Linked DNA regions of Homo sapiens. The protein of the gene in region 4 purifies or fractionates together with the protein of the main gene of each other region. This does not show direct contact. Each region holds a gene or a part of one and is shown on either strand. Other genes may lie near its edges.

Evidence for each region.
Region 1: the proteins of TRIM40 (region 4) and ANKRD35 purify together in Homo sapiens (affinity purification with mass spectrometry, with the first as the bait; one large-scale study listed by BioGRID). This does not show direct contact.
Region 2: the proteins of TRIM40 (region 4) and MIDEAS purify together in Homo sapiens (affinity purification with mass spectrometry, with the first as the bait; one large-scale study listed by BioGRID). This does not show direct contact.
Region 3: the proteins of TRIM40 (region 4) and NBAS purify together in Homo sapiens (affinity purification with mass spectrometry, with the first as the bait; one large-scale study listed by BioGRID). This does not show direct contact.

The regions. Positions count from the first base shown.
Region 1 is NC_000001.11:145,875,813-145,879,498, forward strand, and holds part of ANKRD35 (ankyrin repeat domain-containing protein 35), read right to left. Parts: intron 3,577-3,686; coding exon 3,446-3,576; intron 2,668-3,445; coding exon 2,579-2,667; intron 2,221-2,578; coding exon 2,156-2,220; intron 1,062-2,155; coding exon 1,004-1,061; intron 828-1,003; coding exon 757-827; intron 435-756; coding exon 328-434; intron 1-327.
Region 2 is NC_000014.9:73,757,450-73,761,854, forward strand, and holds the start of MIDEAS (mitotic deacetylase-associated SANT domain protein), read right to left. Parts: upstream 2,855-4,405; 5' UTR 2,314-2,854; intron 1,371-2,313; exon of another isoform or gene 1,298-1,370; intron 1-1,297.
Region 3 is NC_000002.12:15,166,362-15,170,007, forward strand, and holds the end of NBAS (NBAS subunit of NRZ tethering complex), read right to left. Parts: intron 963-3,646; coding exon 687-962; 3' UTR 555-686; downstream 1-554. UniProt on the Homo sapiens protein: Involved in Golgi-to-endoplasmic reticulum (ER) retrograde transport; the function is proposed to depend on its association in the NRZ complex which is believed to play a role in SNARE assembly at the ER. Required for normal embryonic development.
Region 4 is NC_000006.12:30,142,511-30,146,196, reverse strand, and holds part of TRIM40 (E3 ubiquitin ligase TRIM40), read right to left. Parts: intron 204-3,686; coding exon 108-203; intron 1-107. UniProt on the Homo sapiens protein: E3 ubiquitin-protein ligase that plays a role in the limitation of the innate immune response. Mediates inhibition of the RLR signaling pathway by ubiquitinating RIGI and IFIH1 receptors, leading to their proteasomal degradation.

The sequences.
Region 1 (3,686 bases), on a different chromosome or scaffold from region 4:
GCTGGGATCACAGGGATTCTACATACATTTTTTATTGGAAAAAAGGATCCTCTTGCATAAAAGATAATTTGACAACCAGTAAATTCAGCCAACGGGTCCAGAAGTGTCGATTCTACTTCTGGGGTCATCTATCTATGAAGATGGTGGTGGCAGCAGGCAGAGCTCTTCAGAACCTCCACTGGGAAGGAATGAGGTTCCCAAGAACACAAAGACCAACCTGACTTCTTCCCCAACACACACAAACACACACACACACACGTTGCCCACTGGCTTCTTTCTAAATTGGTCAGGCATGGGAATTGGGGTGCATAGACGAGGGGGGCTCACTTGTCATTCTTGTCTGTAACATTAACTCGGGCGCCTCGCTGCAGCAGCTGTGAGCAGATAGCTGCGTGCCCACCCAGCGATGCGATCATCAGGGGTGTACGTCCATCCTGCACAGATTGTAGGAAGAGGTTCATGAGCAGCCAGGGACTGCAGAGGCTTGACAATCCTACCGGCTCCCCTCCCCTCACACCTGTCCAAAAAAAATAAAAGCCCAGATCTTGGGTCTGAACACTCCCTTTTGGAGGGTTAGAAGCTCTCCAGAAGATAAGGCTTAACCTCTCTGTGAGGAAGAAGAGGAGAAGCAGGAGGAGAAGGAAGAGAAGGGTGGTGCTAACACAGCCCTAGGTCGTGGAAGTTGGCCAGTCAAGCTGAGAGACAGCAGCAGCCCTTCTGTGTAGGACACTGCCCACTTGCCCATCTGACACTCACATTATCCAACACGTCCAGGAAGGCTTCGTGGTCACACAGCAGGAGCACACTTGAGGCACAGCCAGAGGAGGCTGGGGAGAAGATGTTTGGGTTAAGGGGAAGCATGAAGAAAGCCTACTCAGACTATGACCCAACATCCCCTCCGACCATTTCATTGGTTGGCCCTGGCTGCCCTTCCCTCCTCACGCCTCCCCTTTCCCACCCTGTAGTCTCTGCAGCCCTGTTCCCATGAGTCCCCTGCACACACCTGCCCAGTGCAATGGACTACGGTTTTCTGCATCCACAGCATCTTCATTAGCACCATGCTGCAAATGGCCACAAAGGGAAGCAGCATGGAGCTTGGTGTTAACATCCTCATCCCATACCCCCATTGGGTCACCAATTTCCATGGTAATATGAGGAGGGGCAGGAGGTCCACTTTGGAGAAGGCTATCTACTAGGCAAGCCCAGTTCATCCATTGCTGATGATAGGCAGCCTTGAATATCAGCCCTGGTTTCTAAACCAAGGGGCTAAGAAAAATCAGATGGTAATAAACGTGTTAGGGAAAATGACACCCAATGTCCCCGTGGCTGGTACTTTAGAAACATAATTGTGAAATTTGGAAAGGATTAGGAAGAACGAAAGTAGAACATCCATTTGCCTGATGGCCGGTTAAGATAACTGATTTTTTTTTTTTTTTTTGAGACAGAGTCTCTCTCTGTTGCCCAGACTGGAGTGCAGTGGTGCGATCTTGGATCACTGCAACCTCCGCCTCCTGGGTTGAAGCGATTCTCCTGCCTCAGCCTCCCGAGTAACTGGGACTACAGGCACGTGCCACCACACCCAGCTAATCTTTTGTATTTTTATTAGAGATGGGGTTTCACTGTGTTAGCCAGGATGGTCTCGATCTCCTGATCTTGTGATCTGCCCACCTCCATCTCCCAAAGTCTGGGATTACAGGCATGAGCCACCGCACCCGGCCAGTAACTGCCTTTTGTGCTTTTGGAGACTCATTTATAAATGATCCACATGTCATTTTACATGTATATTTCTCTTTATACTACTAGACTATAAACTCTTCAGAAACAGACAGTAGGGCTTTGGTTTAATTTGAACATCTCTGTCCTCCTTCCTCTTGCCCCTCATCATAGCAGGAAGTCTCTGCAGTGGCTCTGCTAATGACAAAATCGATAGTGCCTGGCAACTCTGCTTTATAACCTGCCCTCAAAGGCACTATCAAACATGGTGCCTGCACATAGTAGTTAAATAAATGTTGGCAAACAAATGATTATCAGCCCTCCTATTGGGGATGAGGCGAGTACATTTGGCCAACTATTCCTTTTAAGTATGAAATGAAGTTAGAAAACTCTGGGACCACTTCTTCCCTTCATAAGAGTGGTATCAAGGGACTGCTCTTACCTGAAGCAGAACCTTAACACACTGTGGCTGGCAGGAGATGGTGGCCAAGTGTAGGGCAGTGCTTCCTGGAACAGAAAGAAGGGGAGAAGGAGGGTAGGTGGCCCCATGCATGCTGATGACTCACAGGGAGGGAAGGCAAGAGACGCACAGATAATCAGGAGATTAGGGAGAGAAGCTTTCAGCCACACGGGGCCAGAAATTCCTGTTCCCCAAGTGCCTGGTACCTGTGATGAAGGTGGGAGTGGGGGTGAGGTGTGCCCAGCTTACGGGGAGGGGAACTCCTGGAAGGATGCTGGCCAGAACTTACTAAGGAGAGAAGCAAGGGGCCACAGTAGGAATGTCCAGCAGGGCCCAGCACCGCCCCCGACTGCTGCTGTACCAGGGGCAAGCAAGCAGCGTGGCCCAGTGCTCCGGCTCACTCACCATCCTCATTCTTGCTGTTGATGTCAGCCCCATTTGCAAGCAGGATAGTCAGACATTCTGTCAGGCCTTTGGAGGCTGCCAGATGAAACCTGCCAGAATCAAGGCCGAGAGGCCAAAGGATAAAGGGACCAGGGATGAGGAATGGGAGAATCTTGATAAGCCCTTCTTGCTATGCTCCCTACCCCAAAGCCAATCCTAAAAGCAGGAAAAGAAGCTCCCCTAGCTTGAATTTCTGAGAAAGAGAAGTCTATATGGCCTCCAATCACAAAGGATGCTAAAAGCAAGGAAGAAATAAGAGCTACAGGTCTCAAGGAATCTCAGACTATTGCAGGGGTGTCTAGGGAACACATAATTACCTGCCTCTCTGAGCACAGAACCTTAGCGGAAGTGGAAGTGTCACAGAAAGAGTCAGCCAGAGCAGAGTGAAGGCTGGACATTCGAAGGCTTTGGGTAGAGACAAGGGATAACATTTCCTTTGACTTAATCACTACTCCCTCTAGCCATGTGACTCCCATGCTACCACTTCATTTCAAATTTCCCATGCATACACACCCTCCTACTTGTGCAATGAAGAAACACTCTACTTAGTGTATATATTCATTTTCTGTTTGTTTAATGGGCTTTATGTACTTTACAAGTCAGTGGTGTCAATCTGGGTTGTGCAATGGATGGAGCTCAGGAACAATATTTTCTTTCCTCACTTTGTGTAGAACTTATATGTAGCAAAAAACTATTGATATACTTGCTAATTAAGACAATGAAAAGAGCTCTGAAGTTGTAGGCATTCCCTGGTCCTATGTTATATTGGATTTGGGGGCTTCAAAAGGGAGCCACATGTAAGGGGCAGGGGCAGGAGGACTGACTTACGGGGACTGGCCATTCGAGTCAAGCTTGGTGGGTCGGGCAGATTTCCTGGAGGCCAGGGCAGCCACGCGTCCCACATCCCCCCTGTGCACTGCCTCCAGCAGCTTCTGATCATGGCGGTTCCATCTCTCCACCTGGTCCAGAGCCACAGGTTGTGTGAATATAGGGCATGAGGGTAGTGTGGAGAAAGAAAAGAGGCAAATGGTTAGGATGCCAAATGAGAGAAAAGGAACATCCCTTTTTC
Region 2 (4,405 bases), on a different chromosome or scaffold from region 4:
AGAGTCTTTGTTTTTGACCACCACACTGCAGTATGTACACAAATAACTACATAAGGTGGAAATGAGTGTTCAGAAGATGGCTACAGCCTTCAGAAGTGGCATTTGAAACAGGATTAGAAGGATAAGCTGGAAACCCCCAGCCACTTTGTGGCTGTCCCCACCCCAGCATGAGCAAAGTTTTCTTCTGGGAGACCCAAATGCAAGAGAGGGGCTCTCAACCTGAAGATTCCTGGACTGGGCCCATTCCCCTTCCCCTCTTCTGTCAGAGGTCTTGGCACCCCTGGGCAGCCTTTCTCTGGGGACTCTAGACACAGGAGGCCCTCAGCTGAATCCACAACTGCATGTTGTCTTTTCTTGTGTTCCACTTATTGAAAGCAGCAGCACACAGGGTCAAACACTGGGGCTATTTTAAAATCCCACATGTAAAAATTAAATTCTCATCCCCATGGGCACTCCAGGGCGCTCTTTCCTGGGGCGGGGTGAGGAGCTGACAGAGTCACGGGAGTGGGGGTTCTGCTGGCACTTGGAGAGGCCACACTGGCAGTGGCTAGGCTGTTCCAGAGCAAGCTGGCAAGCTGTATGACCTGGGGGCATCCTCCAGGTTCTTCACCCCCTTGTCCCCCCGGGAGCTACACGGACCAGAGTAACCAGCCAGAGGCCAATCCAATTAGAGTGGAGACTGGACCAGGGCCATGCAACGAGATGGTTTATCACAGTAATTGAATGTTTACGCTCCTATTATTCACTGTCCAGAGCAGTTGGAAAAGGAAGACCTACGAATTCTCAACCCGGGAAGGCTTCTCCTTTTCCCTGGGTTCTGAAGCCACTTAACACCCAAGGAAAGGGTGCATTTCTCTGATCCAAAAGGGGCGTGTGCCACACCTTTGGTGGGAGGCTCTAGAGCAAGACAGGTGGTTTCTCCCCTCAGCTGAGGCCCCCTAGGGAGGACTGGCTTCTCGGTCCACCTTCACTAGGCCTTCAGTCTCAACCCTGAAGCTACAGGAACAAGAAGATCCCAGATCACCTGGCCAGGCTCCCCCTGCTGGAGCAAGCCAGACATCCCCTCCCTCCCCCAGCCGCAGCTGCCAACAGGGATCCCCTGCATACGCGGGCCACCGGGGCCTCCGTGGCCAGCCTCTCTTCCCCCATCCCACCGCCCCCCGCGCGAGGCTCCACAGGCTGGCACACAGGTCCCACGTGGGATGGTGGAAACAGGAAGCAGCCACCGTAGTTGTGACCAACAAAGTTTTAAATGGGGCATATAACTTCCCCTTTCATCTTCTCACCAGCTCTCGCTGGAGGCTGGGCTGGGACGGACACCCGGCCTCCACTTTCTGTGGCAGGTACCTCCTCCATGTCGGCCCGCCTTGGGGCTGAAGCCTGAAGGCCCCAGGGCACACGAAGTTCCCCTTCCTCCCCTAGACCTTTACCCAGAGGCCTTGGGGGCAACCTGACACACATGGTCCTGCATGTGCGACTTGGGAGGCGACGTGACCAGCTCCACCAAGCCGGCCATATGCAGGGCCCGGCCGAATCCCGGGTTTCGGCGCTGCCGCCAGGCACCAGGGAACACAGCTCCCCGCGAGGCACCGCGCGGGCTGGGAGGGCTGCGGCGGCGCGGGCGTGCGGGGGCGCGCGGGAGGATGACAGGTCTGAGGTGCGCCCGCCCGCGCGAAGCGCTCCAGCCTAGGCCTCTGCTGACTGCATTTGCCCCAGTTCCCCAACGCCCCTGCACCTCTGTCCCCCAAACTCCTGGCGTGGACGCCGCGTCCAGGCCCACTTTCCCGTGCACGCTGGCAGGGGAAGGGGCTCCCGCGCCAAGTTCCCTCAGCTGGCTAGCCCCTCGCCGCGCCTTCCGGGCCTGGGCTCCGTCACGTCAGCCGGTCCCCACGGACACCACGTTTCTCTCCAGCGGAGGAGGAGCAGCCGGATTCCCGAGCCGCCGCGGGCCGCCGGGTGGGGAGGGCTTTCCTGGCGGGGCCGCGCCCGGGTGGGCGGGGGCCGCGCGCAAGCTGCGTAGCTGCACAAACACCGCGGGGCTGCGCTGCACACGCAGCTGCGGGCCGAGGGCGCGGACCGCGGGGGAGGGGGCGGCGGGCTGCAGGCGGCCCCCGCACGGCCACACGCGCCCGCTCCACCGCCGCCCAGGCCGCAGAAGTTCGAGCGCAGCGGCCCCCGCGGCCCCCTCTCCGGGCCGCGCCTGCAGAGCTGCAACCCGCCGTGCGAGCAGCCACAGCTCGCGCGCCGCCTGGGGTCCCCTCGCCGGCCCCGCCGCGTGCAGGCCTCGGCCGCCGGCCAGGCAGCCCCACTTACCCAGCTCTTGCCCGGGCTCCGGGCTCCGGGCTCGGCTGTCCCCCTTCCGCCGCGGGTCGCCGCCTTCGGTCGCCTCCGGGACTCCAGCCGCCTGCACGCACTCCCGATTTTAAAAACAAACAGGCGCCGTCGCCTCCCCGCGGCGCTCGCGGGGCTTCCGCCAGCCCGCGCCTCCCGAGGCTGAGAAGTTTGCTGGCAGGGCCCGGGCGGGACGCGCGGGCTGTCACCCCCCGCTTGCGATGCAGGAGCCTCGGCGCGCCCCGCACCCGTGCCGTCCGCCTCGCGAGCGCTCTGCCTCCCTCCGTGTCACCCCCAGTCCTGCGATGCAGTGTCAGGATTGCACGGCTCTGACTCATCGGTTGAGCTCACAGCTTGAAAAAAAAAAAAAGAGAGAGGGCGAGAGGCAACAGCGGAGGAGGAGGACTCTGGCGTGCTACAAAGGATTGCACAACTCGAGGCTGGGAGCGCGGAGCGCCCAGCGGCCGGCCGGCGCGCGCGGCACCGCGGCGAGCAGGAACCAGCTCTACCACTTCATCAGCACAACTGTCTCGGGGCGGCCTCAGCCAGCAGGCCCGGCGCCGCCCACTTCCTGCGACCAAATAAGGCCGGGGAAGGCGTCCTTAAACCTCAGGCGGCGGCCGGGGCTGGGGATTTCCAGCAGACCTCACCTCCACTCACGAGTCGGTCGCCGTCCCCATCCCCCGCCCAGGCTGGCGCCCCCGATGGCTTTGCTGGCGGGCCACGCTGCTAGTTCCTTTCACACCAAGGTCAGGAGGAGACGGTGACGAAATGTTTGGAAACCCATTGAGCCTGCCAGGAAAGTGTGTGTGTGATGCTGGGGAAGGCACAAGTCGCTTTCTTCCACAAAGAAACTCTCTCTGGTTTTGGATACGGTAAATCATGCACAATCCTCTCCATGGCATTTTATTAACAGACTCTCCGAGTTTCACTTTCTGGCTCAAAAGCGTCCTGGTGCGTGTAAAGGTTATTGAGAAACTGGCCTCAGTCCCTAGAAAGGACCCACCATCTCCATCGCTTAGGTGAGGAAAATCTCCTGGATTTAAATCTAGCAACTCAGGCCAGAGTTGAGCGGCTTTTCACTCCATACTCACATTTTCCCCTGTCTTCCCTAAATATCCCCCTGATCAATTCTCAGGTCCAGGCCTTGATGCCTCCTTGCCTGACTGGTGGGAAGATGGAAAACATTTTTGCAGCTCAAGAGGTTGGTTCTGGCCCCCACATTCAATGGGGCTCTAGGGCCAGGGGAAAGTTCAGGGGAGTGTGTCCTATTCTTCCTTCCAAGTTTTTTGGTGGTGGTGCAGTGGTGGTGGTGGCGGCGGCGGTGGTGGCGGTGGCTGTTTTTCAAGGAGATGGGTCACAAGGAGATTTTCCTTTGAAAGAAAAACCACCGAAGAATACCATGTGTCCTGGCAGCCACTTTTCAAAACACTGTGGCCAGACCTGAGAACCAGGTGCATCCCTCACTTTCTCAGGGAGAAGAGGAGGGAGGGGCAGCAGAATATGATTCTCACACACTCACTGGGCCTACAGGGCCAGGGTGGGGTGTGGAGGACACAGGCAAAACTTGGATCTTCTGCCCAGAAATCCTGCCAAACCTGCACTTGCTTCTAAGGGGGCATGGCTTTCCTGTCCTCTTCCACCTCTTTGCTGGCTGGAGCACCTGCGTACATGTACACCTGGAAGTCACACCTCCCCAAGAGGAGAAGGGCTTATTTGCACCATGTTATGATAGATATGTCAAAATAAGGAACACTTAAAACAATCTTATCTACAAAATACAGGTAATTATGCCACAGGACTGGACCAGAGGACCTCTTGAGATCCCTTCCAGTTCAAGATCCATGATTCTGTGATTACAGTAAGTGAATAGAGGAGCTAGGGAAACCACCTTCTACAAAAAAAAGCCCGGGCTCCCCGATTTAGCATCTGTGATGACAGTATTGTTCCTGGCAGCTCTCAGAGCACTTCTCCATACAGTCTCCTGAAGAGCCCTGCATGTGAGTTTTATCTCTCTCAATCTGTGGATGTACTGAGGTTCAGAGAGGTTAAGTGAATTGCACCAGGTCACAGG
Region 3 (3,646 bases), on a different chromosome or scaffold from region 4:
TTGAAGCCCTCTAATCAGACAGCAATCATGTATTGGTCCTGATCATCTGGCTATGCCCTGAAGGTCATAATTCATATACTGTGACACTAGTGAGTGGGACAGAGAGTTAATATTTCTTCAGCTCCGGCTGTGTATCTGATAGAGCCTCACACACACAACCCCACATAATACTTATCAACTTTACGAGACAAATAATACCACCCTTATTTTTCTACAAAATAGACATAGGTTCAAAGAGGTGGAAGAATTTGCCCGAGGTCATTTAACTAATCTGAAACTTGAGTCCAGGTCCACCCTCCCTCCACCCATGACACCTGCCTTGACCGCCAGGCATTCTGCACACTCCCTCCCTTCCTAATGCCACCCCATCCACCAGCACATCCAACTTGCTGAACTACAGTTGTGGACACATTATAAACTGAATTCTATCCAGAAAAGGCAGGTTGAAATAAAAAAGGAGGGTGGGAAGGAAGAGTCTCTTAATCAATAAGAAAATATGTTCACCACTCAGTACAAGAAAGAAAAAAAAGGTTAAAAAAGCGGCAGCTTGCTCATCGTTTCCATACAGTTTTATTTGCAATTTGTTGGAACCATGGAGAACAATCGGCAGATACACATGTTGCTTCTGGGAACAGCATTCAACTCCAGATGCTTTTTCTGCTAAGGAGCAGGGCCACAGGTGGCCCTCACACCCAGTGCTGTGCTGCGCGGAGGGCTGTACTGAAGGTTCTGAAGGCCTGGTGAGTCCCCCTCACGGCCAGAAGGAGAGACCCGGCTTCGGCTTCATGGCCGGCCTCCCGCAGGTGTCTGCCCAGCTCCTCTGCATCCCAGCGCCCTTGCTGGAGGCTAGCCAAGAGGTGGTCAACAATACGTGGATAGAAGGGAGTGGAGACACACTTCACCAGCAGCTTGGCATCCAGGAGCAGGGAAAGAAGTTCTTGGTCACAATTGGAATCATTCACCTTCAAGAAATAAGACAGGCACAGCGTGAGGGGGTGTTTGCTTTGTTCGCCTCCCCCTTGGATCCCTCGCTCTCCACTGGGCTGCCTTCATCATCATTCATGCCCTGGCCTGGGTTTAAAAGCGTGTGTGGGTCACGAGCACCTCTGAGGTAGGTCACAGATTGGGATGACAGACGGGGCTCCTCTTAACATAAGAAGACACAAGAACCCCACTGCAATCATCACTACAGCTTCCAGATACTGGGTGCCAGAAACTATTCAACACTGTACCAGCATCTCTTCACCAAGGCCTTCTGATTCAACCCCGTGACTGGCACTTTTACCTCCCAATTGACAGAAAAGGAAACTGAGGTGTAGCAACTTTGCTTAACATTGTAACCAGTTGTAGAGCCAGATTGTAAATTTGGGTCAATCTTGACATCAAAGTCTGTGCTCTTAACAACCACATTTACTGTTTCATTTGTACTTTCACTGTGATCCACATTCTTTAATGCTGTATCTTTCTTGAATATAAATACACATGAAAAAAATTTTTTTGGAACAAGAAAACCTTTTTTGTACTCCATTGAGAGAAGAGTATGTCCCTCAAGCCCACTGATACGAGTAAGATAACCAACAGTGGGGTTTTAAACTATTTTTGCTTCAGCCTCTAGGAAGCTCAGTACCAACCTTGCCTTTTAAAAAACGGTTTCATAGGTTCTTTCAGTTTGCGTATTCTCTTTCTCCCTGGTCTTGTCTTCTAAATATATGTATTATTTTCAATATTTTTTTAAAGAATCAAGTCCACACTGATCATATTATCAAAATTCGGAGCTTCTCACTTACATTGGGGTATCATAAAACAGATTCCTGACAGGCTTTTCTTAACGTTACTGTGCCTTTTTAATAATTTGGATTGTAGGACTCTCAGAAATAATGTCAAAGCCAATTAACTAACGTTTAGACCAACTATATTATGCAACTGTACACAATGTGCTCTTCCTGCATGTTCTGTGACAAGGAAGAAAGGCTATTGAAGATGCGAAGGTCAACTGTGTCTACTTGTCTACTGACTGTGAGAATTAAAGCAAGAGAAGTACTGAGAATAAAATCCTGCCCACTATCGGATAGCGTGAATCTTTCCTACTACCCACAGGGGTCATTCAAAACCCAATGTAAACATCACCTCCAATGCCATCTTCTTGCTGACATTTTCTTTAACTCTCTTGGCCAATACTTGGGAGTATGACCAAGGATTCCTCCTTCCTCCATACTCCCAAGATGCCTGAGATCTGCCTCTTCATGCTGTATGATAAGTAATTTTATTTTATTTATTTCTTTTTTGAGATGGAGTTTTACTCTTGTTGCCCAGGCTAGAGTGCAGTGGTGCAATCTCGGCTCACTGCAACCTCCTCCTCTTGGGTTCAAGCGGTTCTCCTGCCTCATCCTCCCAAGTAACTGGGATTACAGGTGCATGGCACCACGCCTGGCTAATTTTTTGTATTTATTAGAGATGGTGTTTCACCATGTTGGTCAGGCTGGTCTCGAACTCCTGACCTCAGGTGATCCACTCACTTTGGCCTCCCAAAGGGCTGGGATTACAGGCGTGGCCACCGTGCCCGGCCTGTATGATAGTAATTTGTATGTCTGTCTCCCTTACCGACTGGGAAATTCTTGAAGGCACAGAAGTTTTATCACTTTTACATTTCAGCTCCCCATTTCATTAACATTTGTTAAATGGCTGAGTGAACCTACATTATGAAACTTTGTCACATTTTTGTAAACTGCACAAGTACACGATAAAGACCCTACCTCTCAGAGAGACTGAATAGAACTAGACTCCAGAACAGAAGACCCTCTCTGCAAACCCTCAGTGTCTTTTCTCCGGCCTCCCAATTCATGAACACTTGTACAGCCCACCTTTGACCCCACCTTTGACCCAAAACACTTAGGTTGAACTCCAGGAATTTACCTTTGTTTTTGTTTTTAGGAGCTAGATGACAGAAAAAGCCACCGGTTCAATGGACTTGCTTTTGTGCTGGAAGGGGCACGGAGCTTTGACTTCTCCTCGCTGGGGCTGCCTGTGAGTTCTGAATGCCTTCTTTCCATCCCACTTCTCTCCCTGTCTCTTCATGCCTAGCAAACAAGAGTCTCAACCCCACAGAGCTCCTGCCCTCAGCAGCACGGTGTCTACGTGCCAGAACCCTGAGAGGCCCTTGAAGTCTTCAGACATCCCTTCAAGACAGTTCTCACCTCCTCTGACAGAGGCAGGTTCAGTGAGGTCAAGTGTGATACAGTTGCTCCATGGTGGAGTGGCCTAGAAGCCCGTGTCTCGGCCTAGTTTACTTGTTTATTGTTTGTTTCCCTCCAGAACACAAGTTCCTATGGAGCAGAGATCTTGTCTCTTCTGTTCACCCCTGTATCCCCATGTCCAGAATGGGTGGTCACATGCTAGGAGCTGAGCAAGATTTGTGGAATGAATACCCAAGTGAATGAATCACTCCAAAGCTCACATTCTTTCAGTCTGTGTGGCTGCCTCCAGCCACGTGCATGCACATGCTAATGCGTGCACACACACAGGGCATCTGAGTTACTGTATGTGTTATCTTGGTTCATCCTTCAAAACAAAGAATCCCCCTGCCTAACCCTGCAGGACAGAACAGTGTGTGCCAGGATGCTACAGGCACATGTTTGATAAGATGCAC
Region 4 (3,686 bases):
TCTGCCCACATCAGGCTGTTCCAGGGACAGACAGATGTCCAGAATAGTTAAGTAAGGGCTCCTGAGAACACTCCAGGGAGTCCTTCCCAGGAACCCGAAAAACCCACCTGCAGAGCCTGCAGTTTCTTCTCCTGCTGAGCCTTGAGCCGCTGAAGTTCTGCAATGTCCTTTCTGAGCTTCCTGCTCCGGCGATTGAGTCGTTCCTAAAGAGACAGACACACCTGCTTGTCAGACTGGGAGTGAGGGGGGCACCCACTGGGAGGAGTCAATGGAACACGGTAGGGGGCCTGATCCCAGAATGCAACTAATGTAAAATTCTGCCTAAAAAGAAATGCTTTTAGAGCATCATGGTTGGAGTAAGGGACTTGAGAGTTTATTTATTGGATAATGATGGGGGGAAATAGTAATGGGTAATTTTTTTACAGTCTTAGAAGTACAGAAAAAATAATAGATAGCAACAGAACCATTTCTACTTGACTTCAGGGTGCTTTCTCTCAACATACAAAAGTTATATGACAGTCTTCTAGCACTTCTTACTATTTTACAGTAACACATGGAGCCAGTCTGGAGGGAATTGCCTTAAAGAGGAAATGGCAACCCTCTGCTACCTCTGCTGCCTGGTCCTCACTGGGATGAGTGACAAGATAGAGCCCTTTACTAGGTGCAAACTCATAGCCCAGGTAGGCAGTGCCTTCTCTCTCAATCTTAAATCAGCATCTGGATGTGTCGCTGTGTCCTTGAAGCTATGGAGTTAAAGAATGATTTGAGTTTCTAAAAAAATTTTGCTTTCAGGTTTTTGATGACCTATAAGAGAAGCAAAAATAACAACAAATGCTTTAAATGGCTGCCCATGGTTCGGGGGGCAGTTGGAGGGTGAATGATAAAATAGAAAACAAAACGAGAAGAGATTTGTGAACTAAAGATCAGGATGTGCTATTAGCTGAAAAGTGTGTGTTTCACTAAATCTTTCCCACTTCAGATTTTTTTTTTTTAATCTTTTTTGAGGAGATTTTGGAGATGTACAGGTAGAAGTCAGGGGATGGTGAAGACAACTGAAAGTTCTTTCCAGCCTGAGAATTTCCTGGTGAAATCAAGGTCAAAGGACTGTGTGTGTGAGGGGTCAGCAAGGGCATTTGGTGAACAGAAAGCTGCAGTAAGCAGAGAAGACAGTGATGTCACCACAAAGTTACTAAAAACGTGTCACGTCACTGGGTGTTTCCTGCAGGCATTTCCCAGCAGAGACGAAATAAAAAAGTCATAGGAGTGGGAAGTAATAAATGGGCATCATGGATGTCGCTCATGAGTCTCGCTGAAGAAGGTGGCAGGCTGGTGTGGAACTGTTTGTGCGAGCACAAGAGTTCATGTCCTGAAAAGCACAAACAGCCTTCACCGCTTGCATCTACTCACTTGCTGCCCTCACAGTCAAGTTGTTTGGTGTTGCTGTCTTCACCTCCTCACTGTCGTCATTCCTCAGCCAGCCGCCTTGTTTCTCATCACTCCTTTAAAGCCTCTCTCTCCAAAGTCACCTGAGATCTCCAGCCATGAAATCCGCAGGTGCCTTTCTGTACCTCCTCTCCACCCCATCCTTCCTAGACCTGTGCCTTCTGCCACTGCTTCTTTGCCTCTTCATTTTTTTCTGTAAAAAGGAGCCTTGAAGTTGGCTCCTCAACCCTTTTCTATCTCAGACTATGTCCTTAGCTTTCCTTTCTGGAGCCTTCAGATCTTAGAATTCCAAAACCAAATCTTTTTTCCTAGCAATCCATCTCATGCTTCCAAGTGAGAGCTAAGTGCTGCCTACTGCCCTGTTGGCAGCTCAAAATCAATATGGTAGAATCAAACATGCTGCCCAGTTCCCCAAGCTCTTCTGCAGTCCACTCCTCTTGACCTTCATGTTTCTGACATTGGGACTGCCATTCTGCCTGCCATTCAGCTTGAAATCTGTCACATTTCACCTTTGTTGATGTTAGTCCTCCCTTCAAAATGGCTTCTCAGCAACAAAGATAAGCCCAAACTCCTTCACCCAGCATCCAAGGTGCCCCAGGACCCAGCCCCAACTGACATTGTCCGGGATTCTCTCTCTGCTCACTGAACTCTCTTCACCAGCACACAACATTGCTCTCTGCTTCCCAAACACACCCGTGCAGCCACACCTCCTCATGGCCTTTTACTTCTCTCTGTCAGGAGTGCTTTATTTTTCTGCCTGTCAAAGTCAGGCCTATTAAGGTCCAGTTCAAAAAGCCACAGTCCTATCATCTGGCAGTTTAAAATTTAATAAAGCCAACTACAGACACTGTGTAAATGAAAAAAAGAAGGCAAAGATAACAGTAATAAAGATAAAGGCATAGAATGACTGAAGATAATACTGTCATATTGTTTACAATATTCAAAATGAGTAAGGTAAAGTCCTCTGTTTCTAAAAAGTACTTTTTCACCAATTTTTGCATAAAGGTATTTAATGGGTGCATATAATATAAATAAGACACTCATTAGAATTGAAAAGCTAAATTCTATACACTTTCACCTACCAAAATATTCCTCAGAGAAAAAAAGACAAGTTGAAATCTAGAAAATAGTCGAAGACCTGTCTTGTCTAAATGAATATTTTAAAATTCTGTCATTCAGGTTAAATCATATTAAATTTTTAAAATCTGACAAAAAAGGGCATTAAATTTGTTCTTAAACAACTTGCTAACACAATGTACAAAAGAAAAGTGGTTAACAGACAAAAAGTACCTATCCCTGACACTGAAAAAAAAAAAAAAAAAGAAAAATTAACAGCTTTCAAAATGCATGCTCCTTACAGAACTGTGTCCAAAAATATGAATTAAAAACAACATCACTCACACAATTATGATCTAGAAAATGTCAGAAAATTTTTAAAAATGTATGGTAAATACATGAGCTCAGCAAAGAATCTCATTTGAATCTACAAGTAAAAATTGTCAAAAAAAATAGTGTTGTAAAATACATAGCTACCCTCAATAGAGTCAGGGCACATGAGGTTTAAGTAAAGACAATTTAATATCTGATTCAGATACATAGTGGAAAGCCGTTAGTGATGTATCTTGGTACTGGTTGAGAAGACTAACTAAACCCCCAAAAGTCATGATTCTTAGTAATCAACAAATTTAATGCAATAACCATTAAAATCTTATGGAATGATCTATGAAATTTAGAAACATTGTAAAAAAGCACTCATCTTAAAAGACAGCAAAAATATCAGGTAATAAAATTATTAAATGGCAAAAATGCTGCTAGATTTAAAAATAAACCATAAAGTAACATGTTGTCAAAACTATATAACAGAAAGAATAATCAATGGACTAGAGTAAAAAAAAAACAGCCCATCATGAGAACTTAATTGATGTCAAGCGAGAAACAACACGTAAATGTGGAAAGGACTCACTGTTATATAAATATTTTGGGAACAACTGGATACCAGAATAAAGGAAAATTAACGTGGAGTCATCCTTCACACAACATACTATATGAAATTCCAAGTAAGCCAGGAATTAATAAACCTTTAAAAATAAAACAGAGCAGCACACTCATATTAAACAAATTTCTGTGTATTTAAGACATGGAGATTATATTATAAAAAAGAATAGAGCCAATTTAAATGCAAATTTCTAAAAAGTTGCCCAAAAATATAATTAAGAAGAAATAACAGAATAAAAAAATGTAGG